Linked DNA regions of Homo sapiens: region 2 is linked to region 1. Evidence: fine-mapped expression QTL. A gene starts in region 1. The other region holds a variant in brackets. All regions are shown on one strand. Distances are from middle to middle.

Region 1 (8,339 bases):
CTGGCACTCTGGGAGGCTGAGGTGGGTGGATCACTTGAGCACAGGAATAAGATGCCAGCCTGGGTAACAAGGTAAAACCCCGTCTCTCCAAAAAAAATACAAAAATTTGCCAGGCGTGGTGGTATGCGCCTGTAGTCCCAGCTACCCAGGAGGCTGAGGTGGGCGGATGGCTTGAGCTTAGGAAGTCAAGGCTGCAGTGAGCCATGATTGCAGCACTGCACTCCAGCCTCGCGACCCTGTCTCAAAAAAATAAATAAAATGCAAAGAGGTACAAGGATGGCTAGTCGTCTAGTCAAAAGTAGTAAGGATATGTAGAAAAAGGCAGGACCAAGAAGAAATAATGTCATAAAGACAAACATGTTGATTCATCTAACTTGTGTGTTTCAAGGAAAGAAAATATTTCAAATCAGGTGTTCTTATCCTGAGATCCACTGACTTGAAGCAACCGGGGGTTGAAATGAAGCCCTGATTCCTAAAGGATTCTATGACCTTTAGTGAGGTTTAGTGACCTTCACTGTGAGGTTAAGAACCGTCACAATGAAGTCTAGTTCATTTTCATCTATAAACCTACATGTACTATAACACCACCTTGTAGTCCAAGTATTCATAGTACACTACTCCCTGAAAAAAAAAAAAAAAAAAAAAAAAATGATTTTAAGACTGTTCCAAAGGCATACAAGCAATTAAAAGACAATCACACCCAACATAAAAGCTCACAGATATGTAAAGATTCCATTTATATGAATATCCAGAATAGGTAAATCCACAGACACCAAAAGCAGACTGGCAGTTATCAAGGGTTAGCGGGTAGGGGTAGGGGGCAGTAACTGCTTAATGGGTACATAGTTTCCTTTTGGGATGATGAAAATGTTCTGGAACAACACAGAGGTAGTGGTTACACAATGTGAATGCACTAAATGCCAAATGAGTTGTTCACTTGCAAAACGGTGAATTTTTATGTTAAATCAATTTGATCTCTAAGGAAACTAATAACAAAACCCTTTTGTATCTCCTGTTTAAATTTTTTTAACTGACAATCATACTGTATGTTGCCCCTCAATTTGGAGCAGAAAAATCAGAGGAATAAAATGGGACAACACAGACAGAAGATAGCCCGGTATGTTTTCATCCCCTCATCCTCAGGATGGGAGGAAACTAGAACTAAGACTTGCTAAGTGCCTACTAAGTCTGGAGGTCAGAAGGATTCATCTGCTGGGATATTCTTTTTTGCCAGAACAAAGCTAAAATTGAAAACTCAGGATTTCAGCTGGGCACAGCAAATTATGCCTATAATCCCAACACTTTAGGAGGCTGAGGTGGGAGAATCGCTTGAGCCCAGGAGTTCAAGACCATCCTGGGCAACATAGGTAGACCCCCATCTTTACAAATAATAATTTAAAACAATAGCAGGGCATAGTGGTACATGCTAATGGGGAGTCCCAGCTACTGGGGAGGCTGAGATGGCAGGTCACTTGAACCCAGGAGGTTGAGGCTGCAGTGAGCCATGATTGCATCACTGCCCTCTAGCCTGGGTGACAGAGTGAGATCCCATCTTGGGGCGGGGGGGGGGGGGGAATGATATATATAATTTAATTTTAAAACTCACGATTTCTTGGAAATCAATTCCTAGGACTCACAGGTTCATACACCTAAACTTTCCATATTCTTGGGCTGTACCCAGAGGGATAAATAAAAGAAATTGGTACTGAGGGAAAACATACAGCTAAGGTATAGTTAAAGCTTAGCTATTGTTCCACACAAAGTTTAAACTTAGTAATCATTCAAAATTTCCCTCATAAGACCAAATGTCAAAGCAAGCAGCCCATCCAAATAATTTAATAAAAATCAAACATCTAATCTACTCAAAAAAAAAATACTGAAGACTCAAGTCACTGCTTTTGTGAATTACATCACAATTAACTCACAAGGTCAAGAACTGAAGAAAAACTCTGCTCTCCTATGTCTCTGTCCTTTAACAGCATTTCCTGAGGAAAATGTCACAATACATATGAACCATAACTTGAAGTATGGAATCAGCTGGCTACATGTAATCAGTTCCATAAAGTTTGCAAACATTTACTACATGACATTCATGTTAAATTAACACCAGTATTTTCAAGGTCAATATGTTTGTTCAACTTCTTGGAGTCACACATTTTTGTGGTATTTTTAACATCTGACTAAAGCTTCTATCATCACAAGATGCTCACACTGTTTACAAATACTTGGAAACAGCAGCTGGTGTTCCTCAGTTACATCTTGTTACAATAAACAGAGTAGCAGTTTTAAAGTCCAGGTATATATTTTACTGCTGATGTGTAAAAACTTTGCTTTAACTTAAACGTTTCCACTGCCCCCAGTAATGGAGAGACATGAACACAATTAATTGTGGGCAATTTAGTACAAAGTTACGACAAGATCACAAATACACAAATTTTTATGTATGCATACTTGAAAGTACAGCTATCGTGCTGAATGAATCAAATGCTAGTGACTTTGCGCATATATATATACACACACACACACACACTCACATTTTTGCATGTGCGTGGAGACACAGTCTCACTATGTTACCCAAGCTGGAGTGCAAGTGCTATTCACAGACCGATCATGGCATACTACAGCCTCAAACTCCTGGTTTCAAGCAAGTGGCTAAGACCACAAACGTGTGTCAGCGCACCCAGCTCTTTTCATATCATTTTTACTACCTTTTCCCATCCCACGCAAAAAATGCAGAATACAGAAACTTACCCACACAAGCATTGAGGAAGAGCCAATCAGTCTTTTTCATCCTGTTTTTAATTTGCTTTAGTTTTTTAAAGTCTACTTCAAGTTCCTCCTTGCTTCCCACAGCACCAGCCAATTCAATCCTCTGAAAATCCATTTTCACTTCAGAGTCCCGCTTCGTAGCAGGAGGTGATCTCCTTTGGCTATTACCACTACTGCAACTTCCCCTCCATCGAGCTCTGTCTTGCTCATTTATTATTGAAGAAGCCTCTTCAGTCTCTGCCAATTCTATTGCTTCAATGTTATTAGGTCTGGGATGATCACAAACAACACATCTTTTAGCCTTGGCCCAGTTTTCATATGTGCAAACAGAGCAAGTCCAGTGCTGTGTCCTAGTGTTCAGTTTATTTCTATCATTGTATTCCTCACAAGGATCAACAGAAAAAGCAACTGGTCTTGAGCCAGATCCTGAGGACTGAGGAGATTCTGTAGGACTCCTGGTCCTACGTTGGGATAAGCACTGGGTACATCTGATTGCTCTTGGCCAGTTCAAATATGTACACATGTGGCATGACCACTTATTTGCATTTTCCATGCTATACGAAGATTTCACCCTTGGTCTTGCACTAGAGTCTGGACATATCAAAGGACTACTTCCTCCTTCGGTGCTGGAAGGATCCCAATCTCTACCAACATCACTTGAACCACTTTTAAATGGATCTTCTGTAATAATTGTTCCACTAGGTCTTTGGGCACGACACATAGTACACTTGATTGCAGATGGCCAGTTTTCATACGTACAATATTCACAAGCCCACTTAATTCCACGTTCTGACATTGTGCACTTCTTGAAGTGAGCTGTGTCAGGCAGGAAGCTATAAATAATTAGGACATGGTTATTAAAATAACTACATTCCACCTCCAAAAATACGCTGCCCAAAAAGCAAGTCCTTCAACCTACAAAATATAAATTTCTCAAAAGATGCATGCAACATTTCGACATTGAATTATCCTAATTTTCTTTTTTAATTTCCATAGAAACACTGGAGATAAATTCTCAAAGAAAAAATCTTAGACCCTGGGATTTAATAAAACTGAACTTTGGAATGCAAAAGAGATAGGCAGGAGATATAACGAGGTTTGATCTAAGAAGGATGAGATTAACGGGAAGCCACTAATAGAAATGTTTAATTTCAGGGAGGCCATCACATCAATTTAGAAAAGTAACCAATAGTTTAAAGAGACAAAGGTAGAGGAAACAACACAAACTAAAAAATAGCTTAAACACATAACCATTCTCAAATTATGAACACAGATTATGATTCATGAATTCAGAAGATCAAGCAACGTCTATTTTATCATTCTCGCTAAGGGAGAAAAGCAACTTAAAATGCTAATTATCCACTGTTCTTAATTAGCACAGGTAGTAAAGAAACATGTTGAGAAGTAATGGCTACAATTAACAAAGTAACATTATGAAATAGGTAGTTCCTTGATAATCTGTAGCCTCAAAATCTAGTTCTATCTGGAGTAAAAAAAAGAAGACTGTACTGGGGAAAATTAAATCTGTGGAAGGTCACTGAAATAACCAGTAGCATAATCATTCCAATATAATTGTGAATGTTCATAATTAAAATATTTTAAATTTTGAATATTTAAAATATACTCAAAATCTAATTCATGGCCGGGGGCAGTAGCTCAAGCCTATAATCCCAGCATTTTGGGAGGCTGAGGCGGGTAGATCACAAGGTCAGGAGTTCAAGACCAGCCTGGCCAAGATGGTAAAGCCCCGTCTCTATAAAAATACAAAAATTAGCCGTGCATGGTGGTAGGTGCCTGTAATCCCAGCTACTCAGGAGGCTGAGGCAGAGAACTGCTTGAACCCGGCAGGCAGAGGTTGCAGTGAGCTAAGATCGCACCACTGCACTCTAGCCTGGGTGACAGAGTGAGACTCCATCCCCTGCCCCCCAAAAAATCCAATTCATATTTAAAAGATATTCACACTACTTAAAAGATTTCTAGGATTCAACAATGGGCTAACACTACACTATAATGAAGAAAGACTTCATAATTTAATGGCAACTAATTCATAAATGAAGCAACTTACATAACAAATTTAATTTTTTTTTTTTTAATGGCTTGAATTTAGACACTGGCCACTTTTCCTAAATACTTTTATCAACTCAGTATCATCCCAACACCTATTTTTCACCCGGAAAGAGAAAGAAATCCTAGGCAGAGTATAGAAGCTTTGCTCTCTCTTTCTCAGGGATTTTTCCTGAACCTAGAGGGTTAAATCTTTTGTTTGTTTGTTTTTTTGTTGTTGTTGTTTTCATTTTTGTTTTTTTGAGATGGAGTCTTGCTATGTTTTGCCCAGGCTGGAATGCAGTGGAGTGGTGCAATCTAAGCTCACTGCAACCTCCACCTCCCAGGTTCAAGCGATTCTCCTGCCTCAGCCTCCCAAGTAGCCGAGATTACAGGTGCATGCCACCATGCCCGGCTAATTTTTGTATTTTTAGTAGAGATAGGGTTTCAGCATCTTGGCCGGGCTTCTCTTGATGAACTCCTGACCTCGTGATCCACCCACCTCGACCTCCCAAAGTGCTAGGATTACAGGCATGAACCACCACGCCTGGCCTAAATCTTTCACTTTTGAAGTATACTGTATTATGTTCCTGCCTGCCAAGTCCATACACCATTTATAGTGTGAACTCTGCTAAGAAGAAAAAAAAATCACTATAAGAAAGTATACTACTTAATAGCTAAAATAAAAACCACACTTACTAAGATTTTAGTTCCCACGCTATAACCTCCACCTTGCACATGATTAGAATAAAAGTACGGTTTGCAAATCAGATCAAAGACAAGATTCCGTCTTCATGCTGGCTCAGAATTCTGACTTCCTCAGGAGATACTGCAAAACGTGATAAGTGGTTCTGTCTGACTGAATAGCTATTCCTGTAAAGGAGACCAAAACTGAATTTCACTTGAAGCCTGCTACTTTAGCTAAAAGATTTTTAAGGCTTTATTTTTATCAATTCTCTATTTTAACCCTACTCACTTATTTTAACAATGGACAACTATATTTAGAATTTTAATTTAACAAAACAATAAAATTGGCTAATCAACTGGGCTGGTCAGCCAAATTAAACATGGATGAGACATTTTTCTATATAACCTTAACCCTGTGCTGTGTACACAGTTCTAATATTACTATTAATTTGGCAGTGCTAAGTTAATTCCTACCTGTATTACTCTATTACTAAAAGGGAAAAGATGATAAAATCCAAAAAAGTAGAAAAAGCAAAATAATTGCTTATATTTAGCTATGAAACCACCTTCAGCAACTGCATTTTTTTCCCTGATCCAAGTAATATAAAATTATCTTGTTTAAATTTTTAAATTTAGTTTGTATAATGATTACTTACAAACTGATAGCAGCCCAAAAATGTGTGGAAGAGCAGAGAACTATAATGATATAACCATCCAGAAAGTAGACAATACAGATTTAATGGCAATTTTCATACTCTTTAGGCAGATTCTTTTAGTTTCTCGGGAATGAAATATAAGTTACTTGCTCATGCTACTGGAAATTAAAATGAGCATGTAGAAACTTATTAACAAGATAAATGCCATAATGAACATATATCCAGGGCTACTCTAAGTAATTTCAATATATCTTTTAAAATATTCACATTCAAAATCCATACTTGTTTTGATAAGTCTTACTATGTTTGTAGGTGCAACTAAACAGCCCGTAACCTTATGTTATCTTAGCTAATCTTCATGTAACTAATATGCTGGCACAATATATTTAAATGTCCAGGCTGATTTAAAAAACAAACAAAAAACTGTCATAAAAAATAATCACTGTCATAAATGCCTGGTAAAATAATGGACAGACAGCTGCCTAATTAGCCCACCAACCTCTGAAAATCCAGGTAACTAAGCAATACCAAAACCAAGCTCAAGAGTTTTGAGATGTGCCTTATATTAGATAATAAGCACAGTGGCTCAAGTCTTTAATCCCAGCACTTTGGGAGAATGAGGTGGGAGGATCACTTGAGTCCAGGATTCAAGACCAACCTGGGCAACACAGCAAGACTCCATCACTACAAAAAAGGAAAAAAAAAAAAAAACACGATTTTTGTTGTTGTTGAGACAGTCTCACTTTGTCACCCAAGCTGGAGTGCAGTGGCACAATCTTGGCTCACTGCAGCCTTCACTCCCAGGTTCAAGTGAATCTCCTGCCTCAGCCTCCAGAGTAGCTGGGACCACAGGCGCATCCCACCATGCCCAGCCAATTTTTTTATTTTTAGTAGAGACGGAGTTTCACTGTGTTGGCCAGGCTGGTCTCAAACTCCTGGCCTCAAGTGATCCACCTGCCTCAGCGTCCCAAAGAGCTGGCATTACAGGCGCGAGCCACTATGCCCGACCAAAAAAAAAACTTTTTTTTAATTAGCCAGGTGCAGTCGCCTGTGCCTATAGTCCCAGCTACTCAGGAGGCCAAGGAAGGAGTATCATTTGAGTACAGGAGTTCAAGACTACAGTGAGTTATGATTGTGCTACTGTGCTTCAGCCTGGGATGACAGAGCAAGGCTGTCTCAAGGAAAAAAAAAAAAAAACGTAATGATGTACAGTGTTCACTCTGAGAGAACTTGAAACATTGCAGGAATGTTGTTTAGTAACTGCAAGGTAAAATTCATTGAAGAGTGGCTAGGTGCTCACGCCTGTAATCCCAGCACAGGAGGCCTAGGTAGGTGGATTGCTTGAATCCAAGAGTTCGAGACCAGCCTGGGCAACATGGCAAAACCACATCTCTTCAAAAAATACAAAAATTAGCCCAGGGTGGTGGCACATGCCTGTAGTCCCAGCTACTCAGGAGGCTGAGGCAGGAGGATCGCTTCAGCCCAGGGGACTTGAGGCTGCAGTGAGCCATGATCACACCATTGCACTCAGAGTGAGACTTTGTCTCAAAAAAAAAAAAGAAAAGAAAAAATTCATTGAAGATTATCTGAGACAGCCATTTCTACCTGTGGTAATTAGTAAACAGCACTGAACAGTAAGGATAACATCAACTGAACTATGTGTTTTTTTGCAGTATTACAAAGAAATTAACAGAGTACACTTTTTCCAGATGTCAAAACATTCCAAAAAGTACATAAAATTATTTCCAAAGTAGCCAGCTCTAAAAGTTAATACTCTACCTTGAAATAAAACTTACCAAATATCACTTTAAGTATTAAATATATTCATACGCCCAAGTAAATTTAGTTTACAAGTTTAATTTTGCATGCAAAGCAGATTTGCAAATTCTATCCAAGGACTCAAACTTCAATTAATTGGTAAAATAAAACCACAATAAAATCAACATAATCTAGGCCTTCTTTAAGGAGAACGGGACAAAACTGCTACTCTTAAGACAAATATTCCTTGGTTCAAATGCAATACCAACAGTTCCCATCCTGTGGACCAAGGAGACCAGGAATCCATTTGTGCATCAAGCTCTGCCTGTAGAATGAATAATGTCTCTAAATATATCAACCATTTACTACTACTAAATTGACAAGTACTAAATTCGTAACTGTTTTTAATTATATACTTTCCAATTC
Region 2 (8,339 bases), 44 kb before region 1:
CCCAGCACTTTGGGAGGCTGAGGCGGGCGGATCACGAGGTCGGGAGATTGAGACCATCCTGGCCAACGTGGTGAAACCCCGTCTCTACTAAAAATATAAAAATTAGCCGGGTGTGGTAGCGCACACCTGTAGTCCCAGCTACTTGGGAGGCTGAGGCAGGAGAATCACTTTAACCCAGGAGGCAGAGGTTGCAGTGGGCTGAGATTGCTCACGCCACTGCACTCCAGACTGGCGACAGAGTGAGACTCCATCTCAAAAAAAAAAAAAAAAACTATTAGCCAGGCCTGGTGTCTCTCGCCTGTACTCCCAGGACTCTGGGAGGCCTATGATGGGGCATCACTTGAGCTCAAGAGTTTGAGACCAGCCTGGGCAGTCTGGCAAAACCGCATCTCTACAAAAAAATACAAAAACTAGCTAGGCGTGGTGGCTCATGCCTGTGGTCGCCACTACTTGGGTGTCTGAGGTGGGATCACTTGAGCCCAGAAGGTCGGTCAAGGTGAGCCATGTTCATGTCACTGGGCTCCTGTCTCTTATGAAAAGGCCAGAAGTAGAAGAGCCAAGAGCTTGGCAACTCTGCCCTGAACTTACAAGGCCCTATTTCTGTGTGTTCCTTAGATATCCGCCAGGCATCGTGGGTGTGGCTCCAGGAGGACTTCCTGCAGCCATGGAAGGGATCATCCCTGGAGGCATCCCAGTGACTCACAACCTCCCGACAGTGGCACATCCTTCCCAAGCGCCCTCTCCCAACCAGCCCACAAAACACGGGGACAATCGAGAGCACCCCAACGAGCAATAGCAGAGAATGCCAGAAGGTAATCACTCAGATACACTTGGGACCAAGAGACAGTGAAAAATAGATGAACTAAGAGAAAAAGAATCGGATGGTCTTTGTAACTGATTCTGGACATATGCATCATTGATGTTGCAGTGTTGAAACTACAAGAGCTAGAAAACTGAAGATGTCGTCTGCTTACGGAAGCGCTGAAAGACTAGGATGTGATTTATTAACGACCAACTTCTGTTATTGTGTGTTAAGTTTTTCATCTGTGCATCAAATCACAAAAAGAATAAATAGAGCTTTTTCCTTTATCAGTCCCTTGGGCACAGCAGGTCCTGAACACCCTGCTCTACAATGTTGCATCAAGAGTTCAAACAACAAAATAAAAAATATTAAGAGGAAATCCCCATCCTGTGACTTGAGTCCCTTAAGTCTACAGGGGCTGGTGACCTCTTTTTGCTAATAGGAAAATCACATTACTACAAAATGGGGAGAAAACTGTTTGCCTGTGGTAGACACCTGCACGCATAGGATTGAAGACAGTACAGGCTGCTGTACAGAGAAGCGCCTCTCACATCTGAACTGCATACTGAGCGGGCAAGTCGGTTGTAAGTTCAGTAAAACCCTCTGATGATGCAAAAAAAAAAAAAAAAGTATTAAGTTTCACAAGCTGTTTGTACTCAAATATATTTTCTCAGTTTCAGATCCTCTGCTATTTTATTGAGTGGAAAGTCTTGAGCTAAAAGGGTTCAAGAAGAATAATGTTGCATTTCCTTATGTCTCAGGAAACACTTTTTATGGTAACTTGTCAGATTGTCTATGAACAAACCCACTTTTTTAGACATTGATAAAGTCTTCTTTTCTTCACGTGATATTTTATACAAGAACACTTCAGATGTATTAGATGTGACTGATTTTAACAAATCCTATTAGATTTGTATCAACTAGTTACATGTTCTATTCATAGTCTTTTGTGAATCATTGCCTTTTTGTTTAAAAAGATGGCCTATTTTGAGCCTTTGTATAGGTACATTCCTGTTTTTGTGACAAAAGAAAAACTTTAAAATTGTCCCAAACAGAAAAATAATGGCTATCAGAAGTATGTTTTGTTTTAGTGTGAGTTACCGTTACTGTATTTGTTTATTGTAAAGGTGGACATTTAGCGTTCAGTGCAGTTTTCAATAAAAAGTAATTAAAATTTGTTAAGTTCTGAAATTCAAGTACATCTCACTAATGTAAATGTTCTCTACTTGAGATGTTTAAGGCAATTGCATTGTCAATTAGCCAATTTCCAGCTCTTGTTACTACAGGGTTCCATAACCAGACTCAAGACCGCTGACAATTAATTACCTGTGATAACAAAAAGTTTAATTGAAAAATCAAAACCTCACACAAGTCCATCATTATCACGTCATGCCATCCTTAAGATGCAATGGTGGGTTAGTGCTAAATCAATTCAAAAAAAAACAAAGTTGCTCAACTTTTAGAGTTCTGACTTTAATCTACCCCAAAGCAAAATGACCTGGACCTGGTTCAAGGGAGGGAAGTGAACCTTGAAACTGTTTTGCCAATAACCTAACAAACAAAATGATATTTACAAAGAAGTGTTGCAAATAGTCCCATGAGTTAAGAGCTTGATTTAATGGATCTTCTTTTTAAATAGAATTAAACCTTTATACTAAAAGTATTTGCAAGTGTCAATTAAGTCCAACAATTCCAGGTATGAAACTCCCTCTGAGCTCTTCCTTATACTTCCCTTCCCAATTAAAACAAAACAAGAAAATCATGGTGTCTTAAAGCCTTTGGCTTGCCTGGCCTTGTCTGCTCACTCATTTTAAGGTGGTGGCCCCATCCCAACTCTACCATAAAAGTGTCTATTAACACAAGCTCACATGGAGAGAGACGGCGCTCATAGTTACTGACCTATTACCCCAGGGAACAAAAAGGTAGTTTAACGTCTTCGTAACCACTCATCAAAGAGGCAATGAAATATGCGTGAAAAGGAGGCCAAGCGCACACAGAATATCTTACCTTCACGAATATGTGAAGAAGTCTGGGACACGATGAACCTAAGAGTCAAAAACATAAAAAGGCAGGTCTGAATCCATGGTCCACCTGGGTTTTAATTATTAGATCTTGGTCGCCCAAACAAAAATTTATATATATATATATAAATTTGACCCCAAGGAAGAACAAGTCAAAACAAAATGCCACGCTCTGTTTGCTCTAGAAAAAGAACCATCAAGTCCACAGAGTGCAGGTATGACTTACTCTCCAGAGTCAGTCATTAATGTCTGTCACCTAGCCACGTATAATCATCTTTGAAAAAGGACTATATTCTATCTTGGGACAATAATTATGGCTGTTTTAATAGTTCAAGAGCATAATATAGCATTGATTTACCAAAATTTTTGGCCTTTAACAGCCAGTCTATGAAAACCATTTAGAGCCCCATTCCTGTCTGTAGCCTAGGAAATGGAACCATCTTTAATTCTTTCCCACAGGGAAGAATGCTGCACCTATCACACTATGTGGTCAGGGTCACTGATTGATAATAAATAAATAAATAATAGAGCGCTCAGGGGAAACAACACTCACCAGACCACAACACACAGTAGAAGCTAAGTGCTGAGCGTGTACTCTGGACAACGCTGGCTGCAATGCAGACTGCAATGGCTACATGCTTTTCCCTCTAACAATTCTCTTTGGCTTTTTCAATTGGGAGGGCAGATTTTGCTTAACAGGCAACTAGAACAGGATCTCTGCCCACTAAAAAATTATCCCTATACATAGAGAAATTACTACAGATGCTAAGTAGTCAGAATGCTAACATTTTCTACAAACTTGATTACTTATTGGCCAAAATGAAAGCAAACAGCCAATTTTTAACAACACATTCACCACTTGAAACAAACAGCAGCATTTACATTATATCAAAGATTCATTTCTACAGAATCGTACTAAAAAATCATTTTTCCTGCAAGATTTAGCATGCAGCAAAAAATGATCTTTTCATCCTGGGAACACCTTTTTACTGAGTTTTCGGGGGGAAAGAACTAAAGACATGACAGTTTTGTGGGTATTTTTCTATTTTTAGTATTCTGGCAGCAAATTTGAGGTTGTACACATTTCATTATCAACTAAACAAAACAAGAAGCAAGCAAATACTTTAAGGTTTTCACAGCCTTTTTCATCACAGGGAAGGAAAAAACTGTGTGTGTGTGTGTGTGTGTGTGTGTGTGTGCGCGCG[C/T]GCGCGTGCGTGTGTCGTCTTTCCAAATTCCTGGCCACATCAATAGTCTAGAAAGTGCTTATCAGGACACCAAATATTTCTGTGTTCCTGAGATAGGTCTGAAATTTTTACCCAGTATTGAATGTATACCTGAAGTGGTCAAATAATACTTCTTATAAAAAAGTTTTTCTACCTAAGATTATAGTTTTAACTTTAAATTAAAGAATGGCCACAATTAACCAACATGCAAAAATTCTCAGACTAAACACTGAGAAATTCTTCATACAATGCATTTGCCACCTTATTGCATTTTTAAAATCTTTATTCTGTAGTGAATTGGTATTCCCAATCTGCCTAAGCAAAGGCATGCCCTTCTAACAAGATTTGCTTAGAGCAGAGGTGATAGAAGGAAGAATCCGAAGACCCTCTGGCATGGCAATCTGGGAGCAGCACATTGTTGATGGAGTCCAAGTGAGCACATTTCACACAATTCATTTAGTGACAAGTGGGCTTGCTCCCTTTTCATCCAGGAAAAAAACTACTCACAGACCACTGCCCAGAATCTGGAATAAGAACCCTCATTTTAAGGTATTCTTCCCAACAAATAAATATCTAAATATTGAAAGGGGGCATATCAGAAAACTTAAAGACACAATAACCAAAACCAAAACCCTCTTCAAAACAAGTAAGCAATGTCTGTATTTAGTTCACTCTAAAACATTCTTAGCTTTTCTTGCAGTTTGTTCCTAAAAGATTTGATTGGGCACAAGAGGAACGAAATTATTAATAAAATAAAAGCTTATTTTTGTTTTGCTGTGGATAATCGGTACAAAACGTTTCCAGATCTGAGACTTAGATGGATCTTTTAAGGTGAAAGTAGAATGCCAGGTTCTACTGAAATAATATCTGAAAGGAACAAAGAGCCATTTGCCATGTGCTTTTTCTAAGTGCCCATGCTGGAAAAAATTTTCTCAATAATATGAAGATGCTGGTACAACTTTTCCTATTAAACAATGTCTTACACAACCACATGCGTTACATTTATAGACAGATTTACAATTTGGAAGGAAAAAAAGTTCTGTCTTAATAAAATTAGTTTTTTTTACAAACTGTAGTCCAACTAAAGTTCTCTGTCTCCTCACGCAGCAGAGGCATTATCTCCATAAGGTGTGTGTGGTCCAGGAAAACACTTCCCCGAGCAGATCCTGCCAGATTTGGTTCATTCCATGATGTCGACTCTGCTTGGAGCACCACACTAACTTTAGGGTCATTACAGATCTGATGCCTTGGTCTTCTGCTGTTTGATTTTTTTTTTCATTCATCTTCATCATCCTCATCTTCCTCTCCATCAGACAGGGATGTACACGGCCGGATCTGTCGGTAGCGGTCAAGCCATTTTTCTACCATCTGAGTGACCAGGGGGTGATTTCGCCGCCGAGAACTCTTCTGCATGGCAACCAGAACTCCCCCCTCCGTCACACAGCAGTCCAGCCACTCCCTGAGCAGTTTTTCTTGCTGTTCCTCATTACCTAGCTTTTGGAGGAATATGAAGACAAAGGGAAAATCATACAACAGATCAGAGACTTGGTAGGAATGTGACATGGAAACCTACAGCTGGTATGCTAACTCATGAAAAGGCCAAAGCAATCAACTTTTCACATGGTTTTGACCTCTTGGAAGTTTTGTGATTAAAGTCCAGTTTGCTCTGGTTAAATTTAAAAAGACATAAATGGGAAATTTCTCAGAAAAAAACTAAAGAGGAGCACACTAGAGGGTAATTTGTTAGATAAAATAAAAAACAAATGTCCTAATAAACTGATCCTGGCAAGCCACAGCTTCAAACACATGACAAGGTAAGTTTACTTAGTCAATTATGTACAAGCTGAAATTATACAAGTTACGGTCTATGAACTTTTTTTCTTCATGTTGTGATTATAAACGTTTTATAATTACTAGTATATTAAATAAAAGACCAATACTTTTATAAGAATACTGGCTTTCTGAAAGAGCGTTGTTTTTGTACCTTCTCACCACCTCCCCTGTCTGGTCTACAGCACCCTTTCACTCCCCTTCATCTACAATACCTGGTGTTCCTGCTCCTGCCATGCACCAGACCCCAAATGTTCCTCTTCTGGGTAAACTGGCCATTGGTTTACCACGTTATCCAGAGTAAAACCCAAAGCTTTAAAAAGCCTTCAATGAACTCCCCCCCATCCCTATCCTCTCTGACCTCTTCTCCCTTCCTCCCTCCCCCTGCCGCCTACCCTCTCTCTTTCCCTGTTGCTTCCCCTCTTAAACCACACTGGCCTTGCAATTCTTGGAACTCTGCTTTCAGATAAAAACTCACTTCTCATTCCCTAAAATGCCATATTTAAATCACAAACCTCATCTTTACTTTTTCTTCTTAAAACCCATCACCACCTTAAGTTCCTTGATGTGTCCCCATACAGCAGTTTTGAAAAGGTAAATTTCAAAGTATAGCTAGTACCTTCAGCAATTACTACCATCACATTCAGAAATTAAGTGATAGTGCAGATAAAACCACACCTGAAAGGCACTTCAGGCTGTTTCTGGTACAAGGTCACTACTAGAAATAGTTCATAGGAGAAACTGCTTACCTCCTGAGCAGAAAGGAAGTGCACATGGAGTAGCTTCCTTTCACTGTCAACCAGAGGCAAAAATGTGATGGTGACATCATCATCGGTATTGAGATTAGCACCAGCACCTCGGTTGCCATAGCCATCATTTTCCATGGCAACCAAAGCAGAGAAGTGGCCCCTCGTATAACCCAGAGCAATCGGACTTTTCCAACAAAAACTCTGTTCCCACAACAAAGGCAGATAAACACCTGGAAAGAGAGGGAAGAAAATCCCAACAGTCACAGGAAGAAAGAGCCACTCCCTCACTGCCCTTGTTCACATTCCCCTGTCCACTGCTCCTTCCTGACATCTGAGCCATTCCGTTCAAAGAAACTTGTAAAACGTTCCTGAATAATGGCTTACCTTGAAACCGAGTATATCCTAAAGTTTCTCCCCGGAAACTCTTGTAATATTTTACTCCATAAACTATAATTGGTCGTCTAAGAATATGTGCCAGTACAAAAATGTGCGTCTGCTCCAAGCTTGCTCCAGGCTGTACGAAACAAAACAAAAACTTAAAACATTTATTACCACTCCTGGAAAACTGATGTGTAAAAAACAATACTACCTCCCCTTCAGTATACTATCGCAGTTGGTTTTTAAGAAAGAAAAGATTGTCAAAGCAGCATTTGATTCCTCAAATAATAAATCCAGTAAAACTGTAAAAGAAATCTATAAAGGCTACATGCAAATATCATTTACCATCCAAACTCACAAATTATACAGATGTGCATACATACTTTGAAATATCCCTCACTACTAACTCTCCAACCTCAGGAACCAGAGATTCAGATAACTAAGGATGCTTTATTATCACATTCTCGTTAAGTTACTGTGAAAGCACTACCTACAACAAAGTCCTCCTGAAATAAATAAGTGAGCCTGTTTCATGCAAATGTAAATGGCAGTATCAACTAACTCGTGAATACTAATATTAAATGGGTCCATCATCGAGCTACAATGCATGGTGTGAGATACATGTCTCATGTAAATCAACCACTATGAATCCTGCCCAAATTGCCCAAAGATCGGGTACCTCCTTCTCTAAGTTCAAATGAACCATGGTGCTTTCTGCAAAAAAAAAGGAGTAGTTGTATATATATTTGTACTTTACAGTTTGGTATACTGAAGTGCTTCACAAAATAAAGCATGAAACCAAGAGTCTAAGGGACAACCCTACACAGTTCTGTGTCACAAGCAGCCTTCATTAATAAAAAGACGTTAGCAAACTTGCAAAACTTCATTCCCACATTAATCAGAAATCATTCCTATTGATGGTAATTAGTTCAGAGTAAGCTAAACTACCCTTTTCCTTTGCCTACATGACACAGGTATTGCCTCACCACAGGGAGCATTATGAAGATTGACAACTGGTTCCTCAGGGCCTGACAGATCAGCAACAGCAATGCAAGTACCTACACCAGTAATCTTAAGTGTCCCCAGAGACAGAACAGAGCTCACCTGGATAGGTACCATAGGCATCAAGCCTATGCTGCAGGAACGGAGAGCAATCCCAAGACTATCTACTGTATGTAACCGTCATAGCACAGCTTTCACTTTTTGATGTTTTTAATCATTCGATATAAAAACACGTTACTCTTCCTGCTCTGCAGTGAGGACTTGCGATGCTAATCTATACTTGCGATGCTCATCTATACTTGCGATGCTATTTATTTGATACACAGCAGTCATC

Alleles and levels. Positions count from the first base shown, and alleles are read on the strand shown. Sizes are in standard deviations (SD) of each study's normalised expression.
In carriers of allele T in region 2, the expression in subcutaneous fat of the gene that starts at base 3,936 in region 1 tends to be lower than with C alone (small effect, 0.36 SD a copy in FUSION).

Evidence for each region. PIP is the estimated chance that this variant, and not a neighbour inherited with it, causes the effect.
Region 2: its variant is fine-mapped to the expression of ZRANB1 in subcutaneous fat (FUSION, PIP 0.95).

What each region holds. Positions count from the first base shown.
Region 1 is chr10:124,937,720-124,946,058 of GRCh38, reverse strand. It overlaps ZRANB1 (zinc finger RANBP2-type containing 1), which reads right to left and starts at 3,936. Exons shown (of 9, transcript NM_017580.3): 1 at 2,752-3,936. The coding sequence starts at 3,565.
Region 2 is chr10:124,981,975-124,990,313 of GRCh38, reverse strand. It overlaps ZRANB1 (zinc finger RANBP2-type containing 1), which reads right to left. Exons shown (of 9, transcript NM_017580.3): 7 at 7,010-7,139; 8 at 6,626-6,855; 9 at 2,125-5,540. The coding sequence ends at 5,322. CTBP2 (C-terminal binding protein 2) reads left to right here. Exons shown (of 11, transcript NM_001329.4): 11 at 616-5,997. The coding sequence ends at 796. Among named protein-coding and RNA genes, the nearest start is that of ZRANB1, 44 kb to the right of the region's middle. The variant C/T (reference allele first, on the strand shown) is at 4,029.